Linked DNA regions of Homo sapiens: region 2 is linked to region 1. The links come from fine-mapping of genetic effects on gene expression. Tissue or cell type: fibroblasts. Region 1 holds a variant in brackets; the other region holds the start of a gene. All regions are shown on one strand. Distances are between the middles of the regions.

The links. PIP is the estimated chance that this variant, and not a neighbour inherited with it, causes the effect.
Region 2: ACADM starts here. The variant in region 1 is fine-mapped to the expression of ACADM in fibroblasts (GTEx, PIP above 0.99). The same link has a PIP of 0.9 or more in prefrontal cortex, testis and thyroid.

The regions. Positions count from the first base shown.
Region 1 is chr1:75,630,825-75,639,030 of GRCh38, reverse strand. It overlaps a transcript of SLC44A5 not described here. Among named protein-coding and RNA genes, the nearest start is that of SLC44A5, 24 kb to the right of the region's middle. The variant C/T (reference allele first, on the strand shown) is at 4,996.
Region 2 is chr1:75,720,158-75,728,323 of GRCh38, reverse strand. It overlaps ACADM (acyl-CoA dehydrogenase medium chain), which reads right to left and starts at 3,615. Exons shown (of 12, transcript NM_000016.6): 1 at 3,507-3,615. The coding sequence starts at 3,536. It also overlaps a transcript of SLC44A5 not described here. RefSeq lists enhancers at 3,400-3,489, 4,140-4,229, 7,962-8,166 and silencers at 3,620-3,669, 3,720-3,769.

The DNA.
Region 1 (8,206 bases):
TCACTCATCTACTCTCCAGTTACATGAATCAACTTGTTTAGATTCCACATACGTGTGAGATTATGTGATAATTGTGCTCCTGTGCCTGGCTTATTTCACTTAACACAGTGTCCTCCAGGTTCATTCATATTGTTGCAATTGGCAGAAGATATCTACATTCTGATGTTTATTGCAGCACTATTCACAACAGCCAAGATATTGGAATGAATCTAAGTGTCGAAAATGAAGGAATGGATAAAGAAAATGTGGTAAATATACATAGTGGAAAGCTATGTATAGTCATAAAAATAATGAATTTTGTTTTTTGTCCATGGGCAAGTTGATTGGCTGAAAACTACAAAGAAAGAAGGACCGTTTTCCTTGGAGCAGGCTGACAAGATTTATCAGAGAAAGCAAATTTAATTATTAATGGGTTGCTTGAGAAACTTTATGATTTCAGCTGTGGAGTATATTCAATTGCTGTCTCTGTGTAACACAGCCTGGGCTCTTTCGTTGGCTTTCCTACCTTAGTTAAACCTAGACTGCACCACTTTCCTCACTATAAATCCTCATGGGACAGTGTTGAACTTTTCCTGATTCCTTGCAGGTTTTATTTCATTTTGTTTTGATATTAAGATCCTACAACTTTAATACATATTAACACTGTGTTTGTTATTATAAGAATAAATACATTTCAGGTTATAAAATAGCTATTAAAACTAGATTCTACTTACTATGTTAAATCATACAAATGCTTCTATGTTTCACTTGTGTGATTTTGGAGCAGTGATGGCCATCAGAGTCACTATACTTGAAACATGAAACTTGCTTTAATCGTACTATTAGCTTCTAATATTATAATAAGACAATAAATGATGTCATATTATTTAAGTCTTTTTATTTTGTATCATATTTACTGCATAGAGATGTCATGAGGATTAAAAGAGTTAATACAACAATTGCCATGTAAATGTTAGCTATTATTACACAATTATAATAAATATTTTAAGAAGGAAGGTCAAGAGAATATACAATAATTTGGCAAAACTATGTCAACTGCATAGGCGGATTTATATCAGTGAGGTACTAGGTAATAGAGGGAAAGAAATTCACTATACTTTTGAATTAAAATTTCAAGCACTATTTTAATATCTTTTTGGAAGAGGCTAATTTAAGGGGATCTCATGGATAGTCCTTTTAAAGGCATGTCTGTGTATAGTGGGTATTCCCATGTTTCAATTCTTATAAATTTTCCCAATAAAATATTTTTTAATTTGTCTTCTCCACTCCCCCAGTTTGACCCGGAATTGATAAACTTTAAATACAATGAAGATATGTTTATCAGAAAAATATTTTACTCTGCTTAATTTCTTAATGTAATAAAATATATATCACCAAAAATATTGTCATTTTAAACATTTTTCAGTTGCAATTCAGTGTCATTAACTAAATTCACAGTGTTGTACAACCATACCATTATTTCCAAACACTCTTCATCACCCAGACAGAAACTCTGTACCCATTAAGCAATAACTCTCCATTCCTCACTTCCACTAGCCCCTGGTAACCTCTACGCTACTTCTTCTCTCTATGACTTTGACTATTCTAGATACTTAATGTAAGTGCAATTTTTGTCCTTTTGGGTCTGGCTTATTTCACTTAGTATAATGTTTTTTGAGGTTCATCAGTGTTGTGGCATGTATCAGGATCATTTCTTTTTATGGCTGAATTATATCCCATAGCATGTATAGACCACATTTTGCTTATCCACTCATATATTGATGGATGTTTGGGTTGTTTCCACCTTTTGGCTACTGTGAATAGTGCTGCAATGAACATTTTTGTGCAAGTATTGGTGTGAGTTTTTGTTTTTAATTATTTTGAATATATACTGAGGAATGGAGTTGCTGGCTCCTATGAACTGTTTCAGTTTCTAAATCTAAATTAGTTAAAATTATGTTAAATTAAAAATTCAGTCCCTTAGTTATGCTAGCCATATTTCGAGAACTCTTTAGTCACATACAGCTAATGATTACCATATTGGTCAGTGCAGGTCTGGATTAATAATTTGATGAATATCTTTATAATAAATCTACTAATTGTGCCCATTTTCTCTACTGCTCAAATAAGCCTTGTTCTTCCTGCTTTTGTGCTTTGGTTTACCTTTCCTGAGGTCATACTTCTTTTTGCCTGGGATATCTACCTATTCTCTATTTTCTTTTATAGAAATGTTATCTGTTTCAGAAAGTATTCTTTATTACTGCAGCTCACACTGATCATTCCTACTCATAAACTGTCAAAGCATTTGTTAACTTTATTATTTCCATGACATTTACTTGCATTATACTGTAGTTATTTATTTCTTTGTTTCTTATCTGGATTAAAATTCCTTATTGGCAAAGCTAATAATAAAAACAAGAACTACATCAGCAAAACAAAACTAGTCATTTATTAAATGATTGCAGTTCCTCAGGCACAGTGTTGTTTTATACACTCCATTTCATTTACTTCTTAAAACAGAAAGGAAGTAGTATTATCTGAATTCTAAATCAGGATTTTGGGTTTACAGGCTAAGTATCATGTTTAAATCCCTATATCTAGCAAATGGTAGAGTCAGAATTCAAACTCAGGTATGTCAGATGCTCTTACAAGTCTGCTTATACTTTATAAATATTACTTTGGGAAATCTTTATAAATAATATTATCTAACATTTACTTATTGTTTACTCTGTGCCAGATCTTATTGTAAGTGCTTTTCTTGTATATAATATCTTAATTCTTATAACAGTCTTAGGAAGTGTGAGCTGTAATCACCATCATTTTATATATATGATAACAGTTCAGAAAAGTTAAGTTTCACAAGCCAGACACAAAAAGCCTAACATCGCATGTTCTCACTCATACGTGGAAGCTAAAAAATGTGTAAACATGGATGTAGAGAGTGAAATGATAGGCAAAGGAGACTCCGAGGGGTGAATGGGTGGGTGTGGCAGGGGTGCATGATGAGGAATTACTTAATGGGGAAAATGTATGTTATTCAGGTGATGGATACCCTGAAGCCTTGACGTTACAATTACACGATCTATGAATGTAACAAATTTACACTTGTACCCCATAAATTTAAACAAGTTAAAAATAAATACATAAATAATCCCTCCCCAAAGTTAAGTTTCATACCTATTAAATGGCAGAGTCAAGATTTGGACTGAGTGTAAATCAGAGCTTGCATTTTTTTTTTATTATTATTATACTTTAAGTTTTAGGGTACATGTGCACAATGTGCAGGTTAGTTACATATGTATACATGTGCCATGCTGGTGTGATGCACCCATTAACTCGTCATTTAGCATTAGGTGTATCTCCTAATGCTATTCCTCCCCCCCTCCCCCCACCCCACAACAGTCCCCAGAGTGTGATGTTCCCCTTCCTGTGTCCATGTGTTCTCATTGTTCAATTCCCACCTATGAGTGAGAACATGCGGTGTTTGGTTATTTGTCCTTGCAATAGTTTACTGAGAATGATTTCCAATTTCATCCATGTCCCTACAAAGGACATGAACTCATCATTTTTTATGGCTGCATAGTATTCCATGGTGTATATGTGCCACATTTTCTTAATCCAGTCTATCATTGTTGGACATTTGGGTTGATTTCAAGTCTTTGCTATTGTGAATAGTGCCACAATAAACATACGTGTGCATGTGTCTTTATAGCATCATGATTTATAGTCCTTTGGGTATATACCCAGTAATGGGATGGCTGGGTCAAATGGTATTTCTAGTTCTAGATCCCCGAGGAATCGCCACACTGACTTCCACAATGGTTGAACTAGTTTACAGTCCCACCAACAGTGTAAAAGTGTTCCTATTTCTCCACATCCTCTCCAGCACCTGTTGTTTCCTGACTTTTTAATGATTGCCATTCTAACTAGTGTGAGATGGTATCTCATTGTGGTTTTGATTTGCATTTCTCTGATGGCCAGTGATGGTGAGCATTTTTTCATGTGTCTGTTGGCTGCATAAATGTCTTCTTTTGAGAAATGTCTGTTCATATCCTTCGCCCACTTTTTGATGGGGTTGTTTGTTTTTTTCTTGTAAATGTGTTTGAGTTCATTGTAGATTCTAGATATTAGCCCTTTGTCAGATGAGTAAGTTGCGAAAATTTTCTCCCACTTTGTAGGTTGCCTGTTCACTCTGATGGTAGTTTCTTTTGCTGTGCAGAAGCTCTTTAATTAGATCCCATTTATCAATTTTGTCTTTTGTTGCCATTGCTTTTGGTGTTTTAGACATGAAGTCCTTGCCCATGCCTATGTCCTGAATGGTAATGCCTAGGTTTTCTTCTAGGGTTTTTATGGTTTTAGGTCTAACATTTAAGTCTTTAATCCATCTTGAATTCATTTTTGTATAAGGTGTAAGGAAGGGATCCAGTTTCAGCTTTCTACATATGTCTAGCCAGTTTTCCCAGCACCATTTATTAAATAGGGAATCCTTTCCCCATTGCTTGTTTTTCTCAGGTTTGTCAAAGATCAGATAGTTGTAGATATGCGGCGTTATTTCTGAGGGCTCTGTTCTGTTCCATTGATCTATATCTCTGTTTTGGTACCAGTACCATGCTGTTTTGGTTACTGTAGCCTTGTAGTATAGTTTGAAGTCAGGTAGCGTGATGCCTCCAGCTTAATAGCTTACCAACCAAAAAGAGTCCAGGACCAGTTGGATTCACAGCCGAATTCTACCAGAGGTACAAGGAGGAACTGGTACCATTCCTTCTGAAACTATTCCAATCAATAGAAAAAGAGGGAATCCTCCCTAACTCATTTGAGGAGGCCAGCATCATCCTGATACCAAAGCCGGGCAGAGACACAACCAAAAAAGAGAATTTTAGACCAATATCCTTGATGAACATTGATGCAAAAATACTCCATAAAATACTGGCAAAGCGAATCCAGCAGCACATCAAAAAGCTTATCCACCATGATCAACTGGGCTTCATCCCTGGGATGCAAGGCTGGTTCAATATA[C/T]GCAAATCAATAAATGTAATCCAGCATATAAACAGAACCAAAGACAAAAACCACATGATTATCTCAATAGATGCAGAAAAGGCCTTTGACAAAATTCAACAATGCTTCATGCTAAGAACTCTCAATAAATTAGGTATTGATGGGACATATCTCAAAATAATAAGAGCTATCTGTGACAAACCCACAGCCAATATCATACTGAATGGGCAAAGACTGGAAGCATTCCCTTTGAAAACTGGCACAAGACAGGGATGCCCTCTCTCACCACTCCTATTCAACATAGTGTTGGAAGTTCTGGCCAGGGCAATTAGGCAGGAGAAGGAAATAAAGGGTATTCAATTAGGAAAAGAGGAAGTCAAATTGTCCCTGTTTGCAGATGACATGATTGTATATCTAGAAAACCCCATTGTCTCAGCCCAAAATCTCCTTAAGCTGATAGGCAACTTCAGCAAAGTCTCAGGATACAAAATCAATGTGCAAAAATCACAAGCATTCTTATACACCAATAACAGACATACAGAGAGCCAAATCATGAGTAAACTCCCATTCGCAATTGCTTCAAAGAGAATAAAATACCTAGGAATCCACTTTACAAGGGACATGAAGGACCTCTTCAAGGAGAACTACAAACCACTGCTCAATGAAATAAAAGAGGATACAAAGAAATGGAAGAACATTCCATGCTCATGGGTAGGAAGAATCAATGTCGTGAAAATGGCCATACTGCCCAAGGTAATTTATAGATGCAATGCCATCCCCATCAAGCTACGAATGCCTTTCTTCACAGAATTGGAAAAAACTACTTTAAAGTTCATATGGAACCAAAAAAGAGCCCGCATCGCCAAGCCAATCCTAAGCCAAAAGAACAAAGAGCTTGCATTTTAAGTAATCATATTATTTATAAACTTTATTCAACAAACATTTGTTGAGTAATTACTATGTCCCAGACACCATGCTGAATACTAGGGATTTAAAGATGAATAGATCAGAGTGTGTGTATAGCTTTTCCAGTTTAGCCTGCTAAAATGAACAAACAAGAAATATTTGTCATTGGTATAAAAGTTATTAATCACAACTACTACCAGCACCACCAAATAATAATGAGGGCTTGCTGTTTTCGGGAACTGTTTTAAGTGTTTTGCAGACACTAATTGATTTAGCCTCACAGCAACTTTTAAAGATCACCATTATTATTGTTGTTTTTATTTTTTAGATCAGAAACTGATCAGCAGAGATGTTAGGTAACTTGTCTGAGCCAGAAGCAGAAGGACTAACTTATGAACATAAGCAATTTGGCTCTAGAACTCAAGTGCTCAAATATTCCCTGTGGGTAATAGAGTCTTAGTTTTTCTGGAGCGTGAACAAGTGCCATTATATAGAACACATTTAAACCTGACTCTTGAAAAACAATTTCAGGAGCATGGAAAAACAGGAATGATAGTCATTCTGCAATGAGATTTTAAAAGGTGCAGTTTCTAGAATGGTCAGCAGAGGGTGAAGGGAGGCAGCATTTGTAAGATGCCACTTCATTACAATGGAGTAAACTGTGTGGAACTGATCATCTCTAAAGTTCTCTCTTGCTCTAACATTTCAGGATGATCCTTGTTTGAATTATTTTTAGTTTAATGTTACACAACACAAGCAAAAAAAAAAAGAAGTAGCTCCTTCTGAAATACATATAGCTGAGATGATTTTTTTATCTGAGTTAGCACAGCATTTGTTTCAATATTTATTGAATATTTTATAAGAATGTCTCTAAAGAAGTAAGTATAAGATGATCCATAAAGAGCTCAAGTCTGTACTGAAGAGGCAAGGTAAAGAAAAATTTACATGATGACATAAGCATCATATGAACAAAGTTTCAGAGTTCAGAGACACGGAGAAAATAATGGGGCTGAAATAGAAGGGAATTCTTCATGGAAAAGGTAGCCTTATCCAGGACTGAAGGGTGGGTAATATGTGCACAGGAAGGGAAAAGTTGGCTTCTCCTTAAAATTAAATTTCCCAAGTGCTTATGATTTGTCGTCAGTGACTCCAGGCACTGCAGAGAAAATAAGGATGAGTGATACTGTCCAGGCAGGGTGGCTCATCCATGTAATCCAGCACTTTGGGAGGCCAAGGCTGGCAGATTGTTTGAGCTCAGGAGCTTGAGGCCAGCCTGGGCAACATGGCAAAAACTCTACAAAAAATACAAAAATTGGCTGGGCGCAGTGGCTCATGTCTGTAATCCCAGCGCTTTGGGGGGCCAAGGCAGGTGGATCACCTGAGGTCAGGAGTTCAAGACTGGCCTGGCCAACATGGTGAAACGCCGTCTCTACTAAAAATACAAAAATTAGCTGGGCGCAGTGGAGTGTGCCTGTAATCCCAGCTACTCGGGAGGCTGAGGCAGGAGAATCGGGAGGCAGAGTTTACAGTGAGCTGAGATTGCGACATTGCACTCCAGCCTGGGTGACAGAGCAAAACTCTGTCTCAAAAAAAAAAAAAAAAAAAAAAAAATTAGCCAGGTGTGGTTGTGCATGCCTATAGTCCCAGCTACTTGGGAGACAGAAGTGAGAGGATGGCTTGAGCCCAGGAGGTGGAGGTTGCAGTGAGATGAGATTAGGCTGCTGCACTCCAGTCTAAGTGACAGAGTGAGACCCTGTCTCCAAAAAAAGGAGTGATATTGTCTCTGTCTTAGGGAAGTCACAGATACCCTAGCAGTAATAATACAAGAAAGGATATGGTAGACAACAAGATGCACTGTTGGAAAAGTTAACAACAAAACAATATGTTTCCCATTCTAAAGAGAGGAACCAGACCATTCATGTTGAACTTTCAAAGGTCAAGGTTCTAAACTAGTTCTGCCAGCTGCAGTGATTCACTCCTCTCTAGTCTACATAAGAAGTTGAGGTTGAAGAGAAAGAGATTTATTTGGTGAGAAATTGACAGTGTTTTACATTTCACCCACCTTAAGTACCAGCCTCTGATGGAGAAGTGGATGTATTTTTTGATGGTACAAATACCCTAAATAGACACTGCAGAGCATGCTCGGAGAAGTGGAAATTGCCTCAGTGCTGGCACAGCAAGAATTTCAGACCCTGAAGAATATGGCTCCCCGGATAGGCGACTTAATGCCTTCTGTTGGTGTTCTAAGTTGTTTCTGAGTATTGACATAGTTGGGGACCTGAAAGACAGCGAGTCCATGTCTTTCTCTGACCTGGAAAATTGGGCA
Region 2 (8,166 bases), 89 kb before region 1:
TGAGTACAGCAACTGGTTTGACCATACTCATAGTTTTTAAAGTCATCACTATTTAAATGCCTTCAATCATAATTTAAATAAGCCAATTATCAGTTATATAAATTCCTATTACAGAGGAGATGTTTTTAAAAAGTAATGAAAATAAAGTCAGTGGTATTTATACTACTGAAGTGGAGGGTTTAGGACAAACAACAGTCAAGGGTAGTAGTAGATGTAGGACCACTATTCTGGGTATCTTACAAGCTCCTAGGACATTAATGGTTGGAGAGTTGGGGTGGGGAGAACGATAGGCTGGAAGTGAACATACTGTGTTCAAGAGTTGCCTAGTCCATCAACTTTGATACCCTGTCACTGTGAGCCTCCCATGCATGCCTCTGGAAACCTTCCCCTCAGAGGATCTCATTTTTTAGGATACCCCACTCTAACAAAACAAATTAGCATAAAACCATGTTCTGTATTTTCTGCTGTCTACAGGGATTCTTACAATGTTCTGAGCAAGGAGTCACCAAACCAGTGCAGCCACATCATGCTGTCTATTGCCGCTTTCACAGCAGATCTAAGTAGTTACCACAGAGACCATCTGGTTCACAAAGCCAAAAACATGTACTATCCGTTCCTTTACAAACACGTTTGCCATCCCTCTTCTAAACTACTAATACACTACTTGTCTTAGGATCTGAAATATAGTCATATTTCTTCAAAGGAACATATAAAGAAACAAACAATCAAATATACATATATTATTGTTTTGCAACCCATTTTTATATTCATGACAGTTTAATGGATACAAAAGTAAAAATTTGCATTTATTAAAGCTGCCAAACTGGGAACCACAATGGTGTTCTTGAGTAAAGGTTTCAGGACAGTCAAAATTACACAATTTTCACTGTAAAAGATTTTAATTGAACTATCCAGCAATTTTAACAAGCTTAGATACTAAGAGAAAAGAGCAGCTGAAGAATATACTAAAGTTTCTTTATTTAAATTCTTATGTTTTTCAAAATCCGTAAAAAGAAACTGTCTTTGTAGATGACAATTTCAACTTATAAAAGACGAATTCCTACATGTAAGGTGACAATATAATTAAGAGTGTCAAATATTTGTAATTGAAACAGTGCTTTCCAAATAACATACCTCATACTACAGTAATAAAAACATACAGAGTATGAAAACTCGCATTTTCTTTGCATCTTCATTAATTTTATTTTGAAAGTGAAACAGTGCCAGGTGGGGTGGCTCATGCGTGTAATCCCAGCACTTTGGGAGGCTGAGGTGGGCGGATCACGAGGTCAGGGGTTTGAGACCAGCCTGACCAACATGGTGAAACCCCATTTCTACTAAAAATACAAAAATTAGCCAGGTGTGGTGGCACGCACCTGTAGTCCCAGCTACTCGGGACGCTGAGGCAGGAGAATCGCTTGAACCCGGAAGGCGGAGGTTGCAGTGAGCCTAGACTGCACCATTGCATTCCAGCCTGGGTGACAGAGCAAGACTCCGTCTCAAAAAAAAAAAAAAAAAAAAAAGTGAAACAGTTTCTCTGGTGCTTATTGTCCAGCAGTCACAGACCAAATCTACTCTGATTTACAGTCGCGTTACACAGGTTAATTCACTGAATCCCAGGTCAAGTCTAGGATTAAGCCATTACTTTTATTCCACTTTCGCATGTGAAGAAACGAAGGCTCAGAAAGTCAACTAAATTAGGCAAAGTCACTCTACTATTAGTGCAACCAGGATTCTAACATTTACTATCAAGAGCGCATGCTATTAACCACCTTGCTATACTGATCTTTCTGTTAGTATCCTAATTGGTCACTAGGTTCCATAACAAAGGAAAACATTCCACAAAAATCAGAACAAAAAACCTGACTCTATTATAAATGCGTTTTTAAATACCATGCACAAAAGTCAGAACTCAAACCAGGTTAAATGGTCTACTGAGGGACTTTTTTTTTTTTTTGACAGAGTCTCCCTCTGTCACCCAGGCTAGAGTGCGGTGGAGAGATCTCCGCTCACTGCAGACTCAGCCTCCTGGGATTACAGGCATATGCTACCATGCCCAGCTAATTTTTCCTATTTTTAGTAAAGACAGGGTTTCCCTGCTTTGGCCAGGCTGGTCTCGAACTCCTGGCCTTAAGTGATCAACCCGCCGAGGCCTCCCAAGGTGCTAGGATCACAACCGTGAGCCGCCGCACCTGGCCAACCGAGGGAATTTAAATAGGGAAAAAGTCACTTCACATGTGACTGTTCAGGAAAATATGTTACATAGAACAAAGTGCAAAGGTTGCTATTACCAGAATACAATGCCCATCAACCTGTTAATTACATAACAAAGTTAGCCAGTTAATTAGAGAGGTGGTTTGCAAATAGAAAACAGAAACAGCACGGGATCTGGAGTTATAATTGCTGAATGTGAATCTAGGTTCCACAACCATATTTGTGGCCGTAGACAGGTTTACAAACTGCTTATAGCTTCCGTTCAAAACCAAAAAATGGGACTAATCTCACTGCGTATTTTCGGACGATTAAAGTACGATAATGTTTTGAAAGCCTAATGCTATATAACTATTGGTTTTATTACTTCGGGCTCTCTGTCTAGAACAATGAAATTCCAAATATCGAAACAGCACCACTAGAATTGAACACTTTTGTGCATTTCTTGGGAATATAAGAGTGTCAGTTTTATGGGTTAAAGAAGAGAAAAAGGGTGTAAGTTTTCTATATCAGGTTTTTTTTAGATCCTTCCTTGGAGGTTGAGAAATCTGCTTTTCTGGTGTAGGAGTTAAAAATAGCTGAAATCTCCCAATTTCTGCCTTCACTGCACATTAACTTGCATAACACCAGCAAAACATGGGCAGCAATTCTTTAGGATTATTCTAAAACCGCAGCTTTTTTGGTCCAAGACATAACTTTAACTTAATTTTAAGTGACATCTAAATGGCAGTGGTGTGAACATATCAAGAATATTTAAGATACCAAAATTCATCTAGTGACAAACTTATTTAGAATCTATTAAGATCCAATACTAGAATATACACACAAGTTCACATAAAATTCTGCAGGTTTTTTTTTTACTTTTTTTTTTCCCGTAAGCAACGTGGAAACGTTACAACGAAAAGCTTATTAAACATTAAGTATTTCAAGGAGTAGCTGCTCCATTTTTCTTTTTCCCGTGGTTCTGACACAGAGACGGGGTCACTTTGGAAAAAGGTGGGATTCCCGCGGTAAATATTTGGAGGGTTTACCAGAGAAAGAAAAACGATATTCTAAAGAGAGGATGCCGGCTATAACGGGGTCGCCTGACGGGAGGATACGGAAAATGAAACGCTAGGCTACGTTCCGTCCGGTGGTAGGAGGCGTGAAAGCAGGTTGGGGGCCCCTAGGCTGGCTCCTTCCTCAGCCCGACTTCCCACTCCTCCCGGCCGCACCTATTTTTGGCCCAGGGCCCCCTGCTCCGACACCACAATACCCATGTTCCAGCCCCACCGCACCGCTGGGCTCCCTCTCACCCTGCAGCATCGCCCGAACCCCGCTGCCATGTTGGCTCCCGTTCCGGCCACTCGGACAATAATACACGGGTCACGGCCTTGACATACTCCCCGAACGCGGGACTCCTCTGGTCCCGCCCACTGGAGCCCGTGGGCGGGATGGGGCGGGGCGGGAAGAGGCGGTTGGGCTGCGGAAGGACGGGGCGCTGCGCTAGGCGGGGTGGCAGCGGTCCCCGGCGCCGGGTAGCCAACGCATGCTCCGTGACCCTTGCGTGCGCCGTCGCTGCGACCTGGGGAGGGGTCGCATCCCCTCTCCGGGCAATCTCTGATAGTCCTGGTTTGGTTTTCTGCGTTTCCACCTCTGGCCCTCTCTGTGGGACGCCGAGGCTGACCGCAGCGCGGAAAGAGAGCCAGGGCGGGGGAGGGGGACGGCGGCGGGGCTGGGAGGGCCCGGTTGCGCTGAACGGTGGGGGGACTTGCGGCGCGGTGCAGGACGGGAACCTGGGTTAGAGGGCGTGGCTGGGGCCTGGAGGGAGAGCGGCCCCCGTGGTCAGCCTTCACCTTTACCCGGAGAGAACGGTCAAACCCAGATCGTGTCTGCTTGGCGGATTCAAAGTATTAGTACATTTTGCTCTCAAATGCCCTACCTAAAGCGAAAGCATACTTGTGTTTCCTTAAAATTTAAAAGAGAATTTAATTGTTTAGGTAAATTTGACCTTTCCGCGTATTCCCAAGGCTGTTTATGACTTGTCCGCTGATGTGGTGTCCTTGGATATGCGGGTGCAATCCGAGGCTGTCCAAAGCTCCTGGTTCAGCGAATGATGGAAGTGAATGTCTCCCTGAGGAATTCTACCTGGAGTCACTTTCTCTTCCAGTGAGACCCTGAGTTTTGAGATGGTAGCTTATACTAAATCTTATACTAACTTAACATTTTCTTTTGCCCAATAAAGGTCACCCATAAATTCATCTAATTTAGCTGTTAAAATTCTATATCCTGTTATTGTATTCCCCTACTTTGTCTTCTGGGAATTTATAGTGTGTTAGTCCTAGGTACAAGGCAGAATGTTAATTAAGCGCTATATTCAAAGTGAAAGTACCAGGAAAATTCGGAAAAGGGATAAAGAGCTGAGTTTGTCCTGGTATAGGCAAGAAAGCCTTCAAAGTGGTGGTGGTAAGTAAAACACAAAGCGGACTCTTAAAGATGATTAGGAATTGTCTATTCATGTCTCCTTTGTTCCAATTTCTTATTCTGAACATTTTAAACACAGAAAAGATGAACGAAAAGCACAAAATCACCCATATGCCTATTGTAACCCCTTCTTACTGTACACGTGGCTGGCAGAGAAGCGAAGATGGAGCCCTCATCTTAAACATGTCTAGTCGGTAGTTCCTGCCACCATTCACCCAAGCAAGCTACCCCCTTGTTTGTCTGTGCCTGCAGCTCGACTTCACAGGCTGCTCTTAGAAAAGGATTTGGGGCTGCTTTTCATTAAAAAGAAAAGCCTTACTGATGTTGGGAACGGGCGCTCAGTGTTGCAAAAATCAACACTGAGACAAAGGAGCTCTTAGCAAGGCTAGTTTACTTTCTGCAGAAAGGTTGCCGCTCGCTAGTAGTCTTGCCACGAGAGCACACACGCATAAAGGAGACAGGGTCATTTATAACCTGACACGTGCACCCTACTACCGTGTCCGGTTTCCATTGGCTGGAAGGGGACCTCTGTACTTGTCCTGATTGGCTAGCAACTTAGAACTTTCCAAAAGAGGCAAAGACAGAGGAGAACAAAGGAAGGAGGAAGCAACTTGTGGAATGCTGAGAAAGGTAAAAACACCTCCAGATAAGGAAGAAAACAGGCTATGGCCTAATGCTTCCTTGGACCAGTATAAGCATGCCAGGGCAAATATCTAGGCTAAAATGTGGCAGCTAAGAGCACAAAGTACATTGATTTCTTTATTACGGCCAACAGATATCAAAGAATGTTAGTGTGGCCAACTGCCACGGTTACTACTTGAGACCATCGTTACAGCAGTTACTACTGTTACTGCTTGAGACCATCATTGTGAGATCAAATGAAGGGACGAACGTAGAAATGATAACTTAAGACAAAAGGAACTGTTTTAAGGAAAGGGCCAGGGGAAGAAGAAGAGAGCTCCCTGCTTCTCGTGAGCAAAGGCAGCCACAGAGCTTCCACAGCCCTTCCTATTTTTTGGGTAACAGGAGCAGGGAGGAGGTGGTAACGATTGGTCAGCTGCTTAATTGATCACAGGTTCATATTGTTACTGACAGGCTTCAATTATGCCTAATCATAAGAAACATTTGTGCCTAGATCGTAACTACCCTCAGCAGTCCTCCTGGGTGGCATACGCAGTTTGTCAGTTCGCCAACGTTCTGCATTTATGAGAAACAGTTTGCTGCTTACTCATATAGCCTCCAGTGATATACTGAGTTGATCACGAACCTCATTGTTTCGGCCTCCAATATGTTAGCACAGTTCTTTGAATAAATTTTGCTTTTAAGAGAAGTTACTGTTTATTCCTAATTAGACGGAAAGGAAAGTCCATTTGAAGAGGAACCTCTACTTCACTTTTTACACTGAGGACTCCCATACTCGTACTATCGGCCTGAGTAATTTCTTCTCAATATCATTATCACCTAGATTCAAATATTTTTCCATATTTATTTATATATTTATATGTGTACCTATGTGTGTGTGTTTTGGTTGTTGGTTTTATTTTTCTCAGATCTGTAGGTTGTAGATAAGACACTTCAGTTCAGAATACTTTAGCTATATGTCTCCTACAAGGACATTTTCCTATATAACCATTTCCTATAAAACCTTTATCACATCAATGAAAATTAACAATTATTCGCTACTATTATTTAAGGTCCAGAGAATATTTACATTTCTCCAGTTGTCCAGTTGTCTCCAGAATACCTTTTGTAAATAGTTTGTTTTTGAACCAGGATCCTATGAATGATTGCCCATTGAAGTTGGGCTTTAACTTTCTTTGGCTTCTTTTAATCTAAAGCTTTTAATCTAATTCATTTTTCCCAATAATAACTGTCTTTTTAAACAAATTTAAGATACCAAGCAGTTGTCATGAAGAATGCCCTAATGCTGGATTGTCCGATTTTATTTATTTTGTACCTCTAGATTTTGTATTTCCTATCAGTTGCAAGTTACCAGAGGCTTGAGGAGTTCAGATTAAACATTGGATAAGGATACTTCAAAGGTCATACTGTGTAGTTAATATTGTATTACATTAGGAGGCATTTAATATCAGATTTGTCCCACTATTGGTGATGGTGTAAGCCAGCAGTGTCCAATCTTTTGGCTTCCCTGGGCCACACTGGAAGAAAAAGAATTGTCTTGGGCTATACATAAAATACACTAACACTAATGTTAACTGATAAGCTACAAACCAAAACAAAAACGCAAGAAAATTTCATAACGTTTTAAGAAAGCTTACAAATTTATGTTGGGCTGCATGCAAAGCTGTCCTGAGCTGCATGTGGCCTGTGGGTTGCATGTGGTCTGTGGGCAGCAGGTTGGACAAGCTTGCTGTAAACCAAAAACAAAATTCTAAATTCCCCCCAACTATCTGAATGGACTTTCTCGTAGGCTAGGGCACTCTAAAATTTAAATTTAACCTGAAAGACTACTTCAGGCCATGATGGGAAGTGGGGGTTGGACATGCCTCTTTATACCTCAGTGATGTTAACATCAACACAGACCTTAAGTCTGATAAGAAACATTTACAATCTCTTCTCTCTGAAGGAGAGAGATAACAGAATGCTTTTCTGTTCTCACCTGAAGGCTTCCTTTGCACAATAAGAACTTTGGTCTCCACAATCCTTTAATCTTAACCCAGACATTTCCTTTCTGTTGGTTCCAGGTCTTTAGATAAACTTAACCAAGTGTCAGCCAGAAAATGTTTAAATCTGCCTATAACCTGGAACCTCCCCCCGCCTACCCCCCCAGCTCCACCCCTGCTTCAAGTTGTCCTGTCTTTCTGAACTGAACCAATGTATTTCTTAAATGTATTTGATTGAAGTCTCATATTTCCCTAAAATATATAAAACCAACCTGCACCCCAACCACCCTGAGCACATGTTCTCAGGATCTCCCAAGGACTGTGTCGTGGGCCATGATCACTCATATTTGGCTCGGAATAAATCTCTTCAAATATTTTACAAAGTTTGACTCTTTGTTGACAATGCTATTTGATCATTTGATTATTGACAGACAGTTCTTTCTATGGTAAAGTTATAGTTTTCCCTTTGCAATTAGGAAGTAATTTATAGGGTAATATTTGGCATCATGCCAAACAATCTTTCATCTACATTTTTGCCAGTAGTAGGAATAGAACCATCTCTCAAGAAATACCTTTTTATTAATTAAGCACTGTTTCACAAAACTTCTCTACATTTTTAGGTGAAATAATTCGAACGTCTCCCTGGTGTTCCTTCTCCCTAACCCATCTATTTCAAGGTAAGCAGGACTATACAGACCTACGCTCCAAAGTCTAAGGAAGCTGAGAGGCTAAAGAAAGAGGCTGACACATTAACGTTTCTCAAAAAGAAACATTTAATGGAGACTTAAAAACAGAAGCCCTGTCTGCATCTCAGGCGGCAGTGAGACAAGATGGTGGATCCCAGTGCCATTACCCCTCAGACCCAGGG